4 linked regions of the Homo sapiens genome follow. The protein of the gene in region 4 purifies or fractionates together with the protein of the main gene of each other region. This does not show direct contact. Each region holds a gene or a part of one and is shown on either strand. Other genes may lie near its edges.

Region 1 (4,919 bases), on a different chromosome or scaffold from region 4:
AAAAAAAGACTTCTAACACTGTAAAACTCATGATTAGTGTTGTCAATACTTACTAGCACTGTATTTGGCACTTAGCCATAAAAGCTCACATGAACTCTCAATCACATATGTTTGATAAGTTTGATAAGAGCAAGTTTCCCTAGTAATATCCATTAAATTCTGTAATCAGACTGTGCACATCACATTTTATCAAAGTAGTTAGCCTTAAGGAACTGTGATACTCTGAAATGCTCATATGACATCATAAGCTTCCCACAAAGTCGAAGGAAATTTGCTATTCAGAGTGACTTAGCACTATTCAGTGTGATTTTAAACCAAGACAAGCAGGAATGTAAACACATTGTTACAACAATAAAATCAAAAAAGACTTTTGGAACTGTAGTTCCTAATCTGTTTAATATAAGGAAATGAGTCATTTGACTCTGTCATGCAAACTCTGTTTTTTATGAAGTATAAGACTTGGTGACCAACTAAGTTGTGAGGCACAGAAGTGTCTTGGTCACAATGACTAAGTAAAGTTAAATGCCTTAATGATATAATCTACAATAAGAGAAAACTTCAATATTTAATTTGGTCTAGTTGGTCAAAAGGTATCCAGGTGAATTTTCATGTTCATATTCTTTCAAGTAAGCATCTTTCTCCTGGAAGTGTCAAAGAGAATAGCTGAGGGTCAAAGAAAGGTAGATATTTCTAAAAGTTTGGCATTGCTGGTGAACTGCTTGTCAGTGATAAAATTGCATTAAAAATATCTTAATTCAGAAAGGTACTTTATCACAGGCTTTATATCCTGAGGTAGACATGTTTATCATGTAGTCACATGACATGCATGTGTCTAACCAGTTAAAAATAATCAAGGTGATTCATAAGAATGAATTGGTTTATTTTTTCTTAATTCTTTCTACTATGCTCTTACCGTATTATGAGGAGTTCCACCCAGACTCGTACAAAAGCTGGTAATGGACCAAAGACTTCCAAAATATATGTGTAATGACCTCCAGATTTCTTTATAGTTGTTCCCAATTCAGCATAAGACAAAGCTCCTGTGAAATATTTGTCACAAAATGGTACCAATTTAATACATTTTCAAGACACCCAGCATTAGAATAGATACAATAATGTTTATATGTTGCCTGAGATGTAACTGCCTCCTTTGGTCTGAATGGCATCCTTACTCAAGACAAATAACCATCATCTAATTGCTAAGACCCGCCAAGTTCCTTTTCTAACATCCTCACAGTTGAGATTTAGTGTATTCTATTTGAACACTATAATTTTACTTGAAATGACAAAGATACATGTCTGCAACAATATCATGTGTTCCAGAATTTTGAGCTGAAAACCTGGAAATAGGGGAAAAAGAGGAGAGAGATGTCAATAATATTGACCTATTTTTAGAAGAACACAACCTCACACCAAGACAAGGCATTAGTCCAAATGTTTGAGTTAGCTTTTAAGTTTTTTGAGTTATTTTTTGAGAACCCTTTTAATAAATTATGTTTCTGTGGAAAATCAAAATGAACAAGCTGTATCCACTCTTTAGAAAACCATGGACTCTCTGACTTGCAAGATTTCTTTTTTTTTTTTTTTTTTTTGAGACGGAGTCTCACTCTGTCGCCCAAGCTGGAGTGCAGTGGCGCGATCTCGGCTCACTGCAAGCTCTGCCTCCTGGGTTCACACCATTCTCCTGCCTCAGCCTCCCGAGAAGCTGGGACTACAGGCGCCCGCCACCACGCCTGGCTAATTTTTTTTGTATTTTTAGTAGAGACGGGGTTTCATGGTGTTAGCCAGGATGGTCTCAATCTCCTGACCTCATGATCTGCCCGCCTTGGTCTCCCAAAGTTCTGGGATTACAGGTGTGAGCCACTGTGCACGGCCAAGATTTCATTTAATTTGTAGGATATATTTTGTCAACAAAATGAATTCTGACTCTGTTTCTATAAAAGGCTATCTTGGATGTTTTTTGAAGTGTACTCTCTGGGTGTTTTTTTTTGTTTGTTTTTTGTTTTTTTGAGATGGAATTTTTGGTCACCCAGGCTGGAGTGCAATGGCGCTGTCAGCTCATTGCAACCTCTGCCTCCTAGGTTCAAGCAATTCTCCTGCCTCAGGGTCCCGAATAGCTGGGATTACAGGTGGCTGCCACCACATCTGGCTAATTTTCATATTTTTAGTAGAGACAGGGTTTCACCATGTTGGCCAAGCTGGTCTTGAACTCCAGACCTCAGAAGATCCATCCACCTCGGCCTCCCAAAGTGCTGGGATTACAAGTGTGAGCCACTGCGCCTAGCCAGAATATATATATATATATATATATATATATATATATATATTTTTTTTTTTTTTTTTTTTTTTTTTTTTTTGAGATGGAGTCTCACTCTGTCCCCCCAGGCTGCAGTGCAGTGGCACGATCTCTGCTCACTGCAACCTCTGTCTCCAGGGTTCAAGTGATTCTCCTGCCTCAGCCTCTCAAGTAGTTGGGATTAGAGGTGCCTGCCAGCACGCCTGGCTAATTTTTTGTATTTTTAGTAGAGACAGGGTTTCTCAATTTTGGTCGGGCTGGTCTCAAACTCCCGACCTCAGGTGATCTGCTTGCCTTGGCCTCCCAAAGTGTTGGGATTACAGGCGTGAGCCACTGCGCCCGGCCCAGAATATACTTTTTAAAATGAGGTGCTATAATTTATATTTGTGTACTTTAGATCAAATTAACTATAAGCTAAATTTTTAACATTTAACGATACAATTCACATAAAATTGGACAAATATGCAACTCCCCAAAACCTCAGTTTCACTCTCTGTGAAATGGAGATCTCAGCTTCTACCTCATAAAGGAGTTGTGTGTATAAATGTGGCAGCGGGTACCTAGTACAGTACATGGCCTGACACATGGCAAGCACCACATGAAATATAGCTATACTTATTAATTTGAGTAATTAACAAGAAAATTTAAAAAAATCCTGTCATTATGTGAAAAGTTCTATCTGTACTGCCAAGTGCTCAAATGTAAGAACACAATTTTTTTCCAATCTACTTCTGAGAATAAAAGTGTAGAAAAGTACTACTGATTAGTAATAATTTAGACAGAACTGCTCAATATAAATATAATTTGGATATTCAGTGAAATCTTAGTGTTACATATTTTATATCTGATTTCTAAACTTATCATGACATCAAAGTCACCTAGGAATAATTTTTTTTTTTTTTTAATTTTTGAGATAGGGTATCACTCTGGCACCTAGGCTGGAGTGCAGTGGCACAATCTTGCCTCACTGCAGCCTCTGCCTCCTGAGCTCAAGTGATCCTTCCACGTCAGCCTCCCAAGTAGCTGGGACCACAGGTACACACCACCATGCCCAGCTAAATTTTTGTGTATTTTTTGTAGAGGCAGGGTTTTGCCATGTTGCCCAGGCTGGTCTGGAACTCCTGGGCTCAAGGGGTCTGTCTGCCTCAGCCTCCCAATGTGCTGAGATTATAGGCATGAGCCACCATGCTCAGTCTGGGAATAATTTTTAATTCGAAAACACTCAAACCAAAAACAGACTCTAATCAAGAGAGTATAGATTGTCCACAAGAGAAATTCAAGAATCTCTATCATTTTAAAATTTGTACAAATAATTCTAAAGTAACGAGTCTGCAGACTAATATTTGGGGAACACTGATGTATTTCATCTACCTATAACTAATTTTAACTAGTTGCAACTCACTCTCCATGGGGAAACATTCGCCATGTTGGTAGGCTGTCCAGAAAAGGATCCAATATAAAATGTTATTGGGAAGAGTCTTAAGTACCTCAGAATTTATTGTCAGAGAATCAATACCTAGACCTCTATATGCTTTACTGAAACTCCAGGATGGTTGCCCTAGGTTTAAACTGAGTTCTGGGGGAATGATTTTCATTTAAAGGTCTCAAGCTTCATAACCATTTTGCCCAGATGAAAAAAGTTCAAAACAAGATGTAAAAATCCATGTATTGACCCTTCACTTAAAAAAAAAGTATATATATGTATTAAACCAAATGTACAGATTCTTTACAGTTGGTCCCAAAGTTCTAGAGTCTTTTTAAAAAGAAGGATTATTTTTTCTTCAGATTTTGCTTTGCTTGCTGTTACAGAGGCACTCCTGTCCAAAAGCTTCTGGTAACTTAAGTGACAAATGCAATGCAAATAAAGATAAGTAGATTAATACAAGAGCACACTCCCTGCAATTACTAATCAAAGAATACCAACTCAAGTGTAATGTTAGCTAGTCTCCTTAGCTGTTTCTCTCTTTTTATTTTTTTTTGAGCTTTTGCTTCAGATGATATGTAATACTTATGCATAAGCATATTTTCATAGTGCAAGTCAACACACTTTAACTAGTTCAATACTCATACTGATCTATTTTATTACATCTGAATAATCTTTTATTATGTGCAAAAATTGAATCACATAGTGGAAGCTGCATGCACATAAGTACGCAAAGTCCAGTAAACTGGTTGTGGTTTTTCTGATTAGATATTGATTTATTCTGAATATATAAAGTGCTGTAGGAAGATTTAAAGGCTGAGGGTGCACAAAATCATTTAAGATGATCAACAATTAGGTTTCTCTTTTTCTATAAGTGCATATACCAGAGCTATTTTAATATTAATAGTGGCTAAGGGTACTATTAGAGTTTTTCATAATGATATTACTCCAAATTATTTTATAAAGATGGGAAGTAATACTGGGAAATAATGATACACAATTGTTACTGAATATTTAATAAAGCACAAGTTAGTTATAAATAATACCACAAACTCTCTCTAAAAACCCCAAATAATTCCTCTATAAATCTTTCTATACTACTTGTTTTAACAAGTTCTATTTAAAATAACTTCTTCCTAAAAATGGAATTTGAGGACCGGGCGCGGTGGCTCATATCTGTAATCCCAGCACTTTGGGAGA
Region 2 (4,919 bases), on a different chromosome or scaffold from region 4:
TTTTTGGCTATTTCAGTTTTGAGAACATTTCTATTATAAATCTATACTTTAAGGTAAGACACACATTTACTTGAAGTGTCAAGGCTAGCACATTTCTGTCACATAGAAAATTCACAGTAAATATATTTTGAATACAAGAATACATAAACTTTCAAAAGATATTTAGCATTTTTGCCAATACTTAAGTTTGCCTATACTAATTTAAATTAGATTTAATATTGTCATTGATCCTTATATGATTATGTAAAGGTCATAATGTATATGTATATTGAATAATAAGGATACAATTAAATAATTAAACATTAGAACAGAAATCTATAATATTCCTTAATTTTTAGGGGGATATACATAATCTTCAAGAGATATGATCTACATACCTGACAGGTAATGTTCTGTCTCCTTTCCTCCTGTCCATTTCTCTTTGGGGAACAGGATACCAGCGGAAATTCAGTTTCCAGTTAAAACCCCCATAAGTCATGTCTGACCCAGCCATATATTCAAAAGTATCATCACTAATCACATCAATGATAGGGCAGACAACCGTTTTCCTGCAGAGAAATTAAAACCAATTTATAGACACATGATAATTAAAATGTTACATTATCTTCTTCAAACTGATTATAGCTGATATGAGGAAATTTAATTATTTTGTTACTTTAATATGCCTTTAGCTTCATTTTATCCTATTAGTCCATGGAATTATTTCCTTTGACTACATATTCCTTACAGTTTACTTTATGCTATCTTTTGAAATCTAAACAAGTTTATTTCCAAATGCATTCTAAGTACTAACTTAGCAAGATGAGCAGGGTCTATTTTTTATAAAACCTCCACCCACAGCATGATTAGTAGAGCTGCTTTGAGATTATGCATCATTTTAGCTATAATCCATTGAAAAGAAATAGCATTCAGGGAGGTAAGAAGGGATGATGGCAAATTAGATCTGGTAGTTTGCATTTCAAGTAGGGTACGTTAGTTTAGAGAGTTCTGAGAACATCTTCATGGAGAAAACACCTACTAGGAAAAACAAACAGAAATCAACAAACAGCAACAACAAAAATCATAATCCGTCAGTATAAGTAAATGTTTCCGATGAAAGATGATAGGGTCATGACCATTTCTGAGTAAAATGTCCTCAAATTAAGAGTTTACATGTATAATCTAGATGATAGCTTAAGATAGGGAAAGATAAGCAACTTTAATCTCTGGTGTTTTATTTATTTATTTATTTATTTATTTATTTATTTATTTATTTTGACAGAGCCTTGCCCTGTCACCCAGGCTGGAGTGCAGTGGGGAGATCTCAGATCAGTGCAAACTCTGCCTCCCAGGTTCAAGCAATTCTCCTGCCTCAGCCTCCCAACGTGCCTGCCATCATACCTGGCTAATTTTTGTATTTTTAGCAGAGACAGAGTTTCACCATGTTGGCTAGGTTGGTCTCGAACTCCTGACCTCAGGTGATCCACCTGCCTTGGCCTCCCAAATGCTGGGATTATAGGTGTGAGCCACCGCACCTGGCCTATCCCATTTTTCTTAAAGTAAGAGAAAGGTTGGTGTTCTTAATGGTAGCTTTCTATGGTAGAAAATTTCATTTGGGAAAATCATTAGGTACACTTTTAATCCATGTTGTGCCTTCTCTAATTCTTGATCTAATGCCTGTTCATTTATTTTATTATGGGACCAACCTTCTGTGATTTCCACAAGTAAATGTTCAGGCCTACTCAAATTGTATTGGTTGTAGCTAATTCTGAAGACCAGAGTTGGTTTTTCATATTTGGTAGAAGGTAAATACACAAATAAGCTTCTGAATCATCCCTAGATATGAAAAGCACATAAATGTCCATTATTCATACTTGTTTTGTAACACCAGTTTCACCAATACTCATTTTCAATTGAAGTCTTATATTCCACACAACTGACCAGAGCCTCAACTTATCTGCGATCAACAAGACTCCTCTAGCCTTGGAAAACCTTCTTGGTGACTCTGGACCCCAGAAAAATCAACATTTTTCTCACTTCCTTTATTAGATTTAATGATTTAACTTGTGAGGAGAAGAAATTAGGTCTAAAAATCTTGAACAGACTGTCTATTTAGGGTAGTTTTAAACTTTATAATCAGGTCAAGACAATAGGGTTCATCATATGCAAATACAGTGCAATTATGTTGTTAGATCAAAAAAATAAATAGCCTATGTATGACCGTATTGAAACATTAAAAGCTCATTCAGTTGAATATGAAACACATGTGGAAAAAAAAAACAACATAATGTACCAAAATTTGCCAGGAAATTCATTTTTAAGTTCATTTTACTTTGCCAGTCTGATTGTCCTGTGGGTACTGTACAATACACAGAGTGGAAAAATGTTATTAGCCATGTACAACACTCTATGGACTAAAAGGTTCCTACTGCTTTCTTCAACTGCTGTGCTTCATTTTACTGACAGCTTCCATCCATCTTCCTGGCAAGTACCAAATCCTGCTGTTTAAGTGATGTGGCTGGACTAGCTCAGACTAAGTAGCTCCTATCTTGAGTGTCTAATTAAAAATGTCAATTCTAGAAGGAATTTTCTACTATAGACGAAATGACTATGCAAGTATGGTGTTATGTAATGTTTTGTTATTGTATCAGTTGGCATTCAATGTTAGTTATCTAGGTATTTAGAAATTATACTCTCTTATCACCAGTGTTTATAAATATTTGCTAAAAAATGCTTGTACTTCATCAACAACAGAAGGAATTGCAGGTATGTATAAGGATTCTTAATTTCTATAAGTGTTATTTATTCAATTTTCCAGATTTCAAAATGTGTATGTATAAGGTGACATTGTTGAAATAATTAAACATATTCTTATAGCTGTGCTCTTATGTTTCTTTTTTTAATTATAATTTTTTCAGTGCTGTGTGTGTGCATGTGTGTGTGTGCATTTTTAAGACATTCCAGGTGGATTTGAACTAGACTGACTAAGGGTGCTCGTGTAGTTTACAGAACACTGGCAGAGAACTGGAAAGAGCTGAATTGTTGTTCCCAGCACTTCCAATGACAGGAGCAAGTTAGATGTGGCTTCTTTGTTCCTCCTCATTATAAGTTATAGATAAGAATATCTACAGTACCTACCTCACAGGGTGGTTGTCAGAACACAAAAAGGTGCTTTGAAAATGTGCTTTATAACACAATTATACTATTTTAGATTATATTTATTTCCTTCACCTAAAAAGTAATTTAACACGTTTTTATTATTTGAATTATTTCACTATTTCTTAATCAACTATCTATGTCCAGCATGAATACAGCAGTCTTATTTATCAAGCAAGTGGGAAAACGTGCTTTTAAGAAAAGCTATAAAATAAACCTTCTAAAAATAGCAACTTGGAAGAGAAATTCTGATGGACATCTGGAACTGTCCTAAGAGGTTCAGTCATAACCCAGGCAGACAGAACACATAAATTCTTACCTGTCTTCCTTTATTCTTGCCAGCAAAGGCTCCAGCCATCCTAACGTGCATTCACAGTGTGCATCAAGAAAAGTTATGACCTGCCCTTTTGAAGCAGCTGCTCCTCGAAGACGGGCACGTATTAACCCAGAGCGTTCTTCCATCCTAATAATTTTTACTGGCACTTCTAAATTTTTCACGTAATTCTCTAATGTCAACTTGAGAAAATCTGTAACATGTATAAGAATTTATAAGAAAAATTTTTGAAACTGTTTTAAGAAATAGCAGAGATACTACCAAGATGGAAATTCAACACACAGAAATGGTGGCCAATTCCTATCAGTATTTACTGCCTTAGATATAAAATAATAGAGATTTCATTAGTTAATTAATGTCAAGTATCCATAAAATCATATGAGAATGCTCAATAATATAATCAATTGAGTTGGAAAAAAGATATATTTTTGAAAGTCATTTTGGCTGAAATTTTAGGTAAGAACCATATAGAATCATGAGAGAAAGTGAAAGAATTAGTTATTTGCTTCTAGAGTTGGCATTAATGAGGTTCTTGATGAGAATCTGATAGGCTGTGGCAGGGCTAGTAAAATTATAATGCAAATATAGATCATTGCCTAGTTATCTTTTTGGCCATAATAAAGCTTTCTAATACAAAAAAACAAAACAAAACAAAACAAAAAAACAAAAACAAAAACAAAAAACCAGTTTGTACCTCTTTCACTGGCATCATCTACCAAGATGACCTCTGAGAGTAGATAGTGTGGGGAACGATTTATCACACTGTAAACAGTTCTAAGGAGAGTGCTCCAAGCTTCATTATGAAACACAATGACTACACTTGTGTTTGGAAGTTCATCAGGGTAGACTTTTGTCTTACATCTGAAAAAGAGAAAAGAAGAGGGATCTTAATAAATGCATTTTTTATCCTGATTATTTTAAAAAGAAATATCCATAATAACACAACTTCAGACTTGAAAGCCCCTTACTAAGGAAATGTTTTATGAATATCTAAAATCATTTCCCTTTTATAACTGCTGTGAGTAATCAGTTGGCATTCTGAAAATTAAATATGCATAATTACTAATATTTTTATTTTAACTCCTGCAGGGAACAAAGCAGCATGATTTCTACAAGTCTAAGAAAAACCTAAGAAATATAAAATAACATTCTGAAACTGGTAAAACAGGTACAAATGAGTTCATTTAGTGAATATAATTTTATCATTTGTTAATAAAAATGTATAACTCAAGAAGTCATAGGAACATAAACAGACAAGGGTCCAAAGGGTTTTGAAATATGTAAAACAGATTTTTCTGTTCTAAATCTAGTCATATATGCTTTTAATTCCATTTGAGGATGCTATAAACAATGTCTACTTCCAAGGAATGATTTAGGTTTCCTTTAGATTCAGAATCTACTAAATGCATCCTGGCCTCTAAAATTTCCCTATGTTTTGGAGATCAGGAAA
Region 3 (4,919 bases), on a different chromosome or scaffold from region 4:
TCTGAATCAAGAGGCTAAATGCTAAGACCGGAAGATTATGTGGTCTAAAGAGCAAGGCTGCCAGAAGAACTAATCCACTATATATCTCCCATAAACCTACAGTCTTGAGTTTGAAGTCTGCAGCAATGACTTGAGATTTAAGTAAGTCTTTGGTGCCCGTGAACAGAATGCCAAGGACAAAGACATAAACAAAACGAGCTTCAATAATACCCCTAAAAAAGAGCAAAACAAGTTAGATTCATTAGCACCAGTGAGAAAAATTCAAAAACATTTTCCCATGAAAAACACACCTATCTACCCAGGGAACCAGTAAATGTCCAGCACTGCTGACTAAAGGAGCCGCGGCACCCTCCCTACCCCCCAGGTCCTGTCATGGCAGTGGGCATGTCTCCTCCGCACAGCAGCCCTGAGGAGCCGCCGCCACAGGCCCACAGGTGTGTCCTCGTGCAGACTCTTCCGCTGGGGCTGGCTTCGGGGAGATCTTGCTCATTTGGCTCATCTGGTGGCACGACCCAAGCGGTGCCCTCGTGGCCCGCCTGCTTTGCAGTTAATTAAAAAAAACCCAACGCACTAGTATAAGAGTCAACTCTAAGAAACTGCTGTAAGTTCATAAATGTTCATTGCACAACTGAGCAGATTTAAAGAAGGATTTGCACATTTACAGGTACACATACATGCAGTTATAGGTAAATAAGCACCTGCACATTCACAGGCACACACGCGTGCAGTGGTGCAGTCATCCAACCCGCGGGCTCTGAGAAAAGGCAGAGCTCTGCTCAGTCCGAGCCCTGCTGCTCTGCTCACTAGCTCTCCTACTCGGGCGTGTCAATCAAGACTTCTGACCCTCAGCTTTGCTATTTGTGAAATGGAGAGAAAATGGTTCTACACTTCACAAAGTCATCCTAGGAATTAAGCAAGGGAATGCAGGGAGTGCTTGGCACACAGTAAGCTCAGTAAAATTAAGTACTCTTATGATAGTTATCTGTAAAGGATACAATTACCAAAAAATTTCATCTTACAAAACACGTATGTTCCTAAAACATAATATTTTAAATAAATTTTGTAAATGAAATGCTTCACACAGCCTACAAATCTGATCATTTAAAATAATCGTAATTTTTAATATCATAATATTGTGAAAACTGAATTTTCCTATATTAGATTTTCTTAGAAAGCTTTTACATTAAGAAAGTAAACTTTGATCAGTTTAGTTCAAACAGCCTGAGCACTGTATACCATGTGCCTGGCAGTGTGGCTGCCAGGAGGGGCCCACATCCTGGCTGAGGAGCTGGGGTCAGGTACCTGGCAACCCCCACAGGCCAAGGTGTGTGCTAAGTTAAGAGTGAATTATAGGCCCATCTGCATTCAAAGAAGGGAGAAATCAGCAAAGGTCACAATCACTGGAGAAGTTTCATAGAAGAAAAGGGACTGGTTTCTGTGTCGAGAGGATGCTAGGGCAGGCAGGGTGATGAGCAGGAGGGGCATCATCCAGGGCCTTTGGTGGGTCCTCCTCCTCCTCCCCTGGCCGGGCAGAGTCTGATCCTGCTCAACCAGGCCCACCCCGCTTCCACCTCCACTCCAGCCATCCCTGGGCTTCTGAGTGGAGGACAGTCAGGAACTGAGTGCAAAGGATTTCAGACTCTCAGTGGATGGCAGGGCCCGGGGGACTGACAGGAGAGCGGCAGCTGTTACAATGATCTAGAGCCAGGATGCCTCTGTAGCCAGGACCTATTTACGATCGGGACAGATGGGGACAAAGGACGGAGGCACTTTACAGGAAGAAGGTGAACCAGGCAGTGCGTGTGGAAAGAAAAGGCACACTGGCTAGTTCTGGACACTAGCAAATTACATGCTGCAGGAAGCAGGCCAGGAAAGGGAAGAGGGCCAAGGTCTTGAGATGAGTGATGCTGAAATTCAGTGTATAGATCTGTGAGGAAATGAATTTATTCATACGCTGCACCTTAAACACACACCCGCAAATGTAACATCCATTTGGATGAGCCCTAAGTCTCAGATTCCAAAGTCAACAGCCTTTGAGACATCTCCACAGAACACCGCTGGTACCTGCACGTCAGCATCCTCTCTGCCCCAGGCCCCGGCCCCGTATGACGGCCTGCTACACTCTCACTGCCTCAGCCAGGCCTCAGGTCACCCTAACTCCCACCCCTTACTCCCCACTCAGCCAGGAAGTACTTCCAGGGGTGCCCCCGGAGCCCCACGGCCACCCCTCAGGCTGGCCACAGCCCTCAGCAGTCACCTTGACTTGCTGTGATTAGAAAAGCAACACTTATTAACTCTAGACATCGCTAAGATACAAAAATAAGTAAAAAGCAAGACCACAATCTTATGATTTCAGGTCCTAAATATAATCACCAGTATTTTAAGTATGTAGTCTTTCATATAAGTATGAAAAAAAAAACAGGTACACAATTAGTAAGCTGGGGTCATACCTGTTCCACAACATGCTTCTCTGTTCTGTGAAAATAGGCTGCCTAACAGCCAGAAGACCCCTCTGCAGAGCACCGACCTCACTGAGAGGGTCACTATCAGAGCACCGACCTCACTGGGACGGTCACTGTCAGAGCACCGACCTCACTGGGAGGATCACTGTATTGCTGCTGGATAATTACCCTGGTTGTTCCTTTTTGCAAGGACACTTTGTGAAGGACACTTCAGTGGACATGCCTCTGTCCCATCCCAGGCTCCTGCCTCTGCTTATATTCTTGAGATAAATGGAAACAGCTATTTAAATTTAAATAGAGGGTCACCCACATGTTACAAGCTGCCCTCCAGAACGGCCTCTGCTCATCCCACTCCTGTGTTCACCACCACAACACAATTAAAATCAGAAACACAGTTGCTTTGACACAAAGAAAATAAAATGGTCCTCCTGACTGAGCCCTCCCGCCAATCAACAGGAGCTCCTGGCCCCTTACGGGGGCTCGTTATAAATTACAAGGACGGTCTGATTTTCCAGCAAGCTTCATTTCCCAGCTGCTGGGAAACATCCACTCATCATCCTCATCACCAATTACACCCTGACCAGGAAAACAGAACCCTGGCCATCACGTGCTGCCACTAACTTAGAAACCGATTCACGCTCATCTGTCTGTCCCATCACACACCCTGAAGGTTTTATTTTAAATTTAAAAAATCTTACTTCCAAGTGATTTGTCTCCTAAAAGTAACACATAAAACATAAAAAGTGCTAACAACGCAGCTGGTTGAGGTTTTCTTAGTTACACTCCAGTAGCTGTTGACACAATCACAATTCACAAACACCAAACTCCAATGCTCTGAAGACTGGCTTGGTCTTCTCAGTTCATCAAACAGTGAAGTGGTTCCACGCGCCCCGTGTCCGCCAGTTCTTCAAACAGTAAAGTGGCTCTATGCACCCCGTGTCCGCCACGCACTTACTTGGAAATGTCCTTGCTGTCCGGCCGCCACGGGAACCGGACACTCCCGATGGCCGCCCGGTAGCAGTAGACGCCCAGCAGCCCCAGCGCCAGGGCAGCCTTGGACACAGGGGAGCACCCCCTCTGCACCAGCACAAAAACTACGAGGAGGGAGAGGGCAGCCAGGACAGAGAGCTCGGCTTTGTGGTCAGAGCTGAAATGAGATGGAAAATGCCAGCATTACGTAAACAAACAGCGACAAGATCAATCTACACCAAGTGGCTTTCAAAGAACGGTATTAAAAAATAGCTGATTTTCCCAAAAACCAAAGATTACATGAAATTGTTGATTTTTATTTTCAAACAAAGGTTCTTAAAGTGTAACAAATAAAAGATGGTCAACCTCAGTGGGGTGTGGTGGCTCACACCAGCAATCCCAGCACTTTAGGATGCCAATGCGGAAGGATCGCTTGAGGCCAGGAATTTGAGACCAGTCTGGGCCACATGGTGAGAACTCATTAAAAAAAAAAAAAAAAGACAGTTAACTTGAACTCTCACTTCTCATTCACAAACGGGTCTCCCACCATCAGATGTGGATGCCCAGAGGCCAGGCGGTGACAAATAGAAACCGTCCTCTTGTTCCCTGGTACCCTCTCGGGGTCAGCCCTGCACCTACCAGCTCACCTCCCCTCTCCTGCCTCCTCCCATTAACTCAGTAACGCATGATACGTCCCTAGACCCACATGGCCTCACAGGGTCTGCTGTCACCCGCTCCTGGGTGAGGAGATGGTGCAGAGGTTGACGGCCTGTCAGAGGGCAGAGCCCGGAGTCCCGACCGCGATGCGGTGGTGCAGCACCAGCCAGTCCTGGCCTGTGTGAGGGTGGGGAAGGCCGGGCTCCCTTCTGTTTCTTTCACTGCAGCTCCCGCTTCAAAGCCTCCCAGGATGACGGGGAGACTGGGGCCACACGGGGGCCTGGGCCTCACCCCGGGAAGGGGTACCTGGGTGTCTGTGTATTGTTGCTTTTTAAATGGCACGCGTTTTTACACAATCTTCAGGATTGTTATAATAATAAAATAGAACATTTATAACAATATAATTGTTACTGTCATAGAAATTATATGAATGTGGGCTGCCTCAAAATAACTGTCATATTTTCAGACTATGGTTGACCTCGCGTAAGGAAAACCGCGGATAATGCGGTTGGGGGTGGCTCTTGCATGTGGGGCGGAAAGCCAGCCAATTCTTTCCTAATGCTTTAATTTTCCAGGAAAGTAAGAAACAAGGTGTCAAAGTGCTATTCCGGGACACGGAGCTCCCTGACACACCCGGCTGCTCTACATGCCTGGGATCCCACCCCGATGCTGGCGTGCCCCGCACAACCTCCCAGCAGCCCGTCCCCCCTCCGCTTCCTCACCTCTGGAGTGGGGACCAACCAAAGTCCCCTCTCCGGGGCTTCTCTGGAAAGGAAACGTGCAGGCACACAGCAGGCAGATAGAAGGACCCATCTGCGATGACTTGGCTAA
Region 4 (5,368 bases):
TTCTAAAAGAAAAGAAATAATTTTCACTTAAATAATAATTATGAAAACATTACAAAAACAATATATTAAAGTTGAAAACCACTATTTGCAGTGCCAAAAACTTTCATAAATGTTTGAATTTTTTATTTAAATGAACTCTTCAACGTTTATACTTAGTACTTTCATTCTTATTCTCATGTTAATAAAGACATTTTAATTCTTGCAATGTAATAGTTACTCCAATTAACAGAATAAACGCAGGAAGGGTTTTAATAAGTTTCCTGATACTGTGCATTCATTCCTCCAGATACTGTGACTAAATCAATCTATTTTTGTGCTATATTTCTCAGAGTTGGAGATTTAGAAGGGAATTGAGGGGTTGTCATTCAGAAATAGATGACATGGAAGCTACAGATTGGGTTTTCTGGGTACCACACCATTCTTTAACTAGATAAGCCCTCAATTTTTATCCGATTCGGTTTTTGCGGAATAACAGGGGTCCTGGCCAGGTGGTGTAGACTCGTCTCTCTCTGCTACTCCCGACTAAAAACAACTATAAACTCTGGGATTAATGAAAGACAAAAGCAATGGAGAACTCTGAAAGGTGGAAAGAGAAAGATGAAATTGTCTGGGACCCTAGCATCAGGGATCAACCAAGTGTCCGAGTGAGCATGTTAAGTCCTCCACACGACAGAAGAAGGTGACCTAGGCCTGCTGTTTCCCTACACCCAACCTGGCAATAGGAGGAGGGTATCGAAGGAGAGTCCCCTCCACAATACCAGGCAAGGCTGGTGCCACTGGCAAGGATGATCTACCAGGAGACCTGCTACCAATATGGAGCTAGAGAAAGTGCTTCCTTCTCATACCAAGAGACACCAGGATGGCTGTGGATGAGGAGGATCAGCAAAGGGACCCCATGACTAACAGTGCACCGTAAACCACCTAGGGTCCTCTTTGTCCCTGAGGGCATGAGACCCACTTCCCCATCCAGAGACAAGGACTCAATGGATTCTTACTGTTCTTTGTACATAGTACAGCAGTGAACAGTAACATACTACTGATAACTGCAATAATATGGAGGAATTGCACAAATATCAGATAGGATTGAAAAAGACATGAAATTCACACTGCTTGATTCCCTTTATATAAATAAATTCAAGAACAGGCAATCATTATTTATAATATTAAAAGTCAAGACTGCGTTTTGGAGAGGAGTCAGGATAAGTGATGAGGGCATACACAGGGGTGGAACTGCTAGAGCTGGAAACTTTTATTTCATGATCTGACTTGTATCACATGCATTCATTCACTTTGTGATCAATCTGCATGACCAGATGATATCATGCCCGATAAAATTAGATAGCAAAATTTATTGTGGATTCAAAGCACTTATAGAAGCATGGTTTTCCTTGAAAAACAAAAACTGAAAATAAATGTACATTAGCAGTATATAACTTTAAAAACATTATTAAGTCAATCAATTGAATATTACATACACTTGAAAATATATGAGATAAATATATGTACACACATATGGATGTTTTCTACAAATGTATTATTCACTGAAGGAAGCTTTTCATAAAATGTTTGAAACATTTACATCTTACCATTTCTTCTTCATTATCTATAGAAAGCAGACTGGAGTTCTTCGAAGTACAGGCCAGCAAACTCTCTTCCCAAGTTCTTCTTTCCTTACCAATGTAATAACAACTGTTGGAATATGTAATCCACTCCTCAGGACAATGGCCACAATGACGTGCTAATAAAGATATGAATTACTATCTAGACCAATATGAATTTTTAAAAATGAAAATTAGTTCACATATTTCAACAGTATAAACATATATGTGCTTAACATATTTACGCATCCTTACAGGCTTATAAATGTATATTTTTAATAACTGAGTCAGTCATACACACATGCACAGACAAGGGTTAGCCTCTCCTCCCTAATTGTGTTCCCATATAAAGCAAATGAACAAACAAAAATACACTCTACACATGTGTTGAACATCGCTGATACACAACTGCTTTTTTAGAATAGTAAAATTATTTATTTGGTATCATCTCACAGCAGTAGGAAACCTCTGTTAATTGGGAGAAAGAGGGTAGAATGATTTTAAGTGAGTATTTCTACTCACTGGAGAAAAGGAAATGCTGCCTCATAATCTTTCTTTATAAATATTTATGGCTGAATTTATGGCTTATTTTCTGCAAAAATGCCACTATTCTTTTACATGCCTTAAAACAGACACAAAATATAAATTGTACTAATATCAGAACATTGAAAATAAAAATGTACCTTTCTGCGTTCTTGTATTCGGGGAAAAATTGTTCTGCTCCAGGACTGTAATAGAAAAATTAAAATGATTTTTATAAAAACTGATATCTAGATAAACCATAACGAGTTTAGTTTCTTACTTTGAAACTTTGTGTGTTATTTAAAATGGGGAGAATCTTTAATAAAATTAACTTTTTCTATAAAAATATATAAAGTAATAGACCTTTGAAATAAACATTTTTAAAGACTTTAGCACAAACTTCACCATCTCTTGTAGTATTTGATGTAACCACTTTCAAAAATTAATTTGTTTTTCTAAATACTTTTCTTCTATAGCATGCCTTTGAATTATGAAATCAGAAAATATCTTTGTGTGTGTATGTATATACATATATATAGATTACACACAAAAAATAAACACATGTTCTCTACAATGATTTTGTTATTTATGTTGTGAAAAATTCAGAATAACCATATTACTTTTGGTTCCAAATTGTACTAATATCAGAACTTTGAAAATAAAAATGTACTTTTCTGGGTTCTTGTATTTGGGGAAGAATTGTTCTGCTCCAGGACTGTAACAGAAAAATTAAAATGATTTTTATAAAAAGTAATATTTAGATAAACCATAATGAGTTTAGTTTCTTACTTTGAAACTTTGTGTGTTATTTAAAATGGGGACAATCTTTAATAAAATTAACTTTTTCTATAAAAATAAATGAAGTAATAGATCTTTGAAAGAAACAGTAAAATAAGAGTTCTATTCTTCAACAGTATGAAATATTTTGAGGCACTTCCAAGCATTAAAGTAAAACGTTCCCTTCTAATCTTTCAAGAATATGCTTACAAGGAATAAGAACTATTGTTTTTAACACAGTGGCCATCAGGACAATGCAAATGATTCCTAGGACCTCGGCAGTGAGCTTCTCTGGAGGTGGCAGTAAACCTGCAGGGAGAGAAATAGAGGCACTGAGAGAGGGGAGATAGAGAGTTGATTAGGATTACATACTAGAGAATTACATACTAGAGAACCCACATGCACAGGGAAACATAATGATAAACTCTGGCCTCTAAATCTACATCTACTCTAGTAATCTTTCTCTCAGAATATACCATTTCATTTTCAGTAAATATAATGTTCCATGAGTGGACCGCAGATTACAGTTGAACAATGCCCGAATAAAATTAGTCTTCTGATTTCATATTAGAATTTTAGATCCCAATTATGAACTCCGATTCTCACAAGTGCAAAATATTCCCTAATCTTTCCTCACCCTTCTGCATTCAACTGCACATCCTAGAACAATAATATTGAAGATATATTTAATGTTTTACCTTGGCAGTCATATATTTTATCAATCCCTTGATGATTCAGGGAAGGATTTTGAAGATTTAATTCTACTTGGAATATTTCCTGTTCGGTTCCTGAAATGGAGCTTTTATTGCCTTTAGGTTTCCTTTGCTGCCGCTTTGGGTCCTGGGCCAGACTCACTTCTGAGAAGGTTCCTCTTTGTTTATTCATCTCTGCAGCTGTGTGATGTGAGGGACTGTGCTCTATGATAACTGCACTTAAGAAGCTATAAATGGTGTATATTTTGACAGGATCCCTGGTATAGGCAATGTGCATGTGTTGGGGCTGAGTAATAATGTTTACTTTGCTGTTAACCAATGTAAAATTCTGCTACTAATTTCCTAAAGCTTTAAACAAAAATCACACGATATAATTGGCAATTTTTTAGATGTATTCTGTATTTGACATAATATTACTAGTGGGAACAATAAAAACATTAAACTTATGAGAACTAGGAAGTTCATGAAAAATTGGTATTAAATTAAGGTTAGATTCTTCAAAAATGTTTAACACCAATAGACTGCATATGTCAACAATCAAAATACTGTATTTAGAAATACACAAATTTTATCATAGTTTTAAGAGTCATTGATGGTTAAGGATTGTGTGCCATAAGATAAAATAGTTCTGTCAGCATATAGAGTATCTTCTTATACTAAAATACATTGTTAGTGACTTACATTCATTTATTAAAAGGACCTGAGGTATTGTCAAATGATTTTTTTTCTAAATTAGGAAATCAGAAAAATCATTAAAATTTTAAAAATATATCTTGTAAAACATTACATTACTGTATGCATAAATATTATTGAAAACGTATTTTTAAATTGCTGCTTTTACACAAGAAATTGGTAATTGATTTAATGACTAAAATAGGAAAACTTAAAATGATAAATAAACGTGTGGGCCGTCTATGGAAGAATAGTGTCCAATCAAACTTTCAGAAAGCTCCTATGATTGTATAAGTCAGTGAGGGTTGCTTTGGTTGTATAAGTAATTGTAATAGTTCAGATAATGTAATTTAATAATCTAGTCAATGAGCTCTGTAGTCAGTGAGACTACAATTAATTCTAGCTTTGCAAGTTGTAATATGTGACCTGTACTAAATTACTTAGTGTCTACTAACCTAGTTTACTAATCTACATTGGGAAAAATAATTTATAAAGTATAATGTATGTAAAAAACTAAACACACAACCTGGCACATGTTACCACTGAATACATAATAGATATTTCAACTATTTTTAACACAATTGCCATTTTATTATTTCTGATTTGCATTAGAGTGTGTTAAAATAACTCATTAATTAGGCGTCTCATGTCAGTGTGGTACATCTTTTTTGCAATGTTTGGTTCAATTGTTTTAAGTCTTCCAATTGTTTATAATTAAGGTCAGATTTGCATTTTATGGAAATGATTTCATCCTTACTTTTATTAAAAATTAAAACTGCTTTCATGAAATCTAGGTGTGTGATTGAGAATTAATGTTTGACATTCACAATTTGATGTATCCATATTAAAAATTTATTTTTAAAGTTTGGTCTAAATATAATATACAAAATGTAATGGTTACAAAATCCAAAATTAATTGTTCATTGTCATGATGGTTATGGGTTTCACTCTAAATTACATGGATTGGCAAACCTATTATTATGTATGCATCTACTTGAGTGATTCTCCAGCGGCAATGATGTGAATACTCTAAGAAATCCTTAAACATAGTTTATATTTTGGCTCGTTTTTCACCTTGAATTATTC

Evidence for each region. The genes of interacting proteins can lie anywhere in the genome.
Region 1: the proteins of KLRC2 (region 4) and SLC7A11 purify together in Homo sapiens (affinity purification with mass spectrometry; one large-scale study listed by BioGRID and IntAct). This does not show direct contact.
Region 2: the proteins of KLRC2 (region 4) and GALNT13 purify together in Homo sapiens (affinity purification with mass spectrometry; one large-scale study listed by BioGRID and IntAct). This does not show direct contact.
Region 3: the proteins of KLRC2 (region 4) and PIGG purify together in Homo sapiens (affinity purification with mass spectrometry; one large-scale study listed by BioGRID and IntAct). This does not show direct contact.

Annotation. Positions count from the first base shown.
Region 1 is NC_000004.12:138,235,412-138,240,330, forward strand, and holds part of SLC7A11 (cystine/glutamate transporter), read right to left. Parts: intron 1,041-4,919; coding exon 914-1,040; intron 1-913. UniProt on the Homo sapiens protein: Heterodimer with SLC3A2, that functions as an antiporter by mediating the exchange of extracellular anionic L-cystine and intracellular L-glutamate across the cellular plasma membrane.
Region 2 is NC_000002.12:154,241,441-154,246,359, reverse strand, and holds part of GALNT13 (polypeptide N-acetylgalactosaminyltransferase 13), read right to left. Parts: intron 4,331-4,919; coding exon 4,164-4,330; intron 3,663-4,163; coding exon 3,455-3,662; intron 549-3,454; coding exon 378-548; intron 1-377. UniProt on the Homo sapiens protein: Catalyzes the initial reaction in O-linked oligosaccharide biosynthesis, the transfer of an N-acetyl-D-galactosamine (GalNAc) residue from UDP-GalNAc to a serine or threonine residue on the protein receptor.
Region 3 is NC_000004.12:525,729-530,647, reverse strand, and holds part of PIGG (GPI ethanolamine phosphate transferase 2, catalytic subunit), read right to left. Parts: exon of another isoform or gene 4,844-4,919; intron 3,610-4,843; coding exon 3,418-3,609; coding exon of another isoform or gene 3,414-3,417; exon of another isoform or gene 3,107-3,413; intron 213-3,106; coding exon 1-212.
Region 4 is NC_000012.12:10,432,205-10,437,572, forward strand, and holds the start of KLRC2 (NKG2-C type II integral membrane protein), read right to left. Parts: upstream 3,807-5,368; 5' UTR 3,783-3,806; coding exon 3,596-3,782; intron 3,207-3,595; coding exon 3,108-3,206; intron 2,327-3,107; coding exon 2,282-2,326; intron 1,739-2,281; coding exon 1,587-1,738; intron 3-1,586; coding exon 1-2. UniProt on the Homo sapiens protein: Immune activating receptor involved in self-nonself discrimination.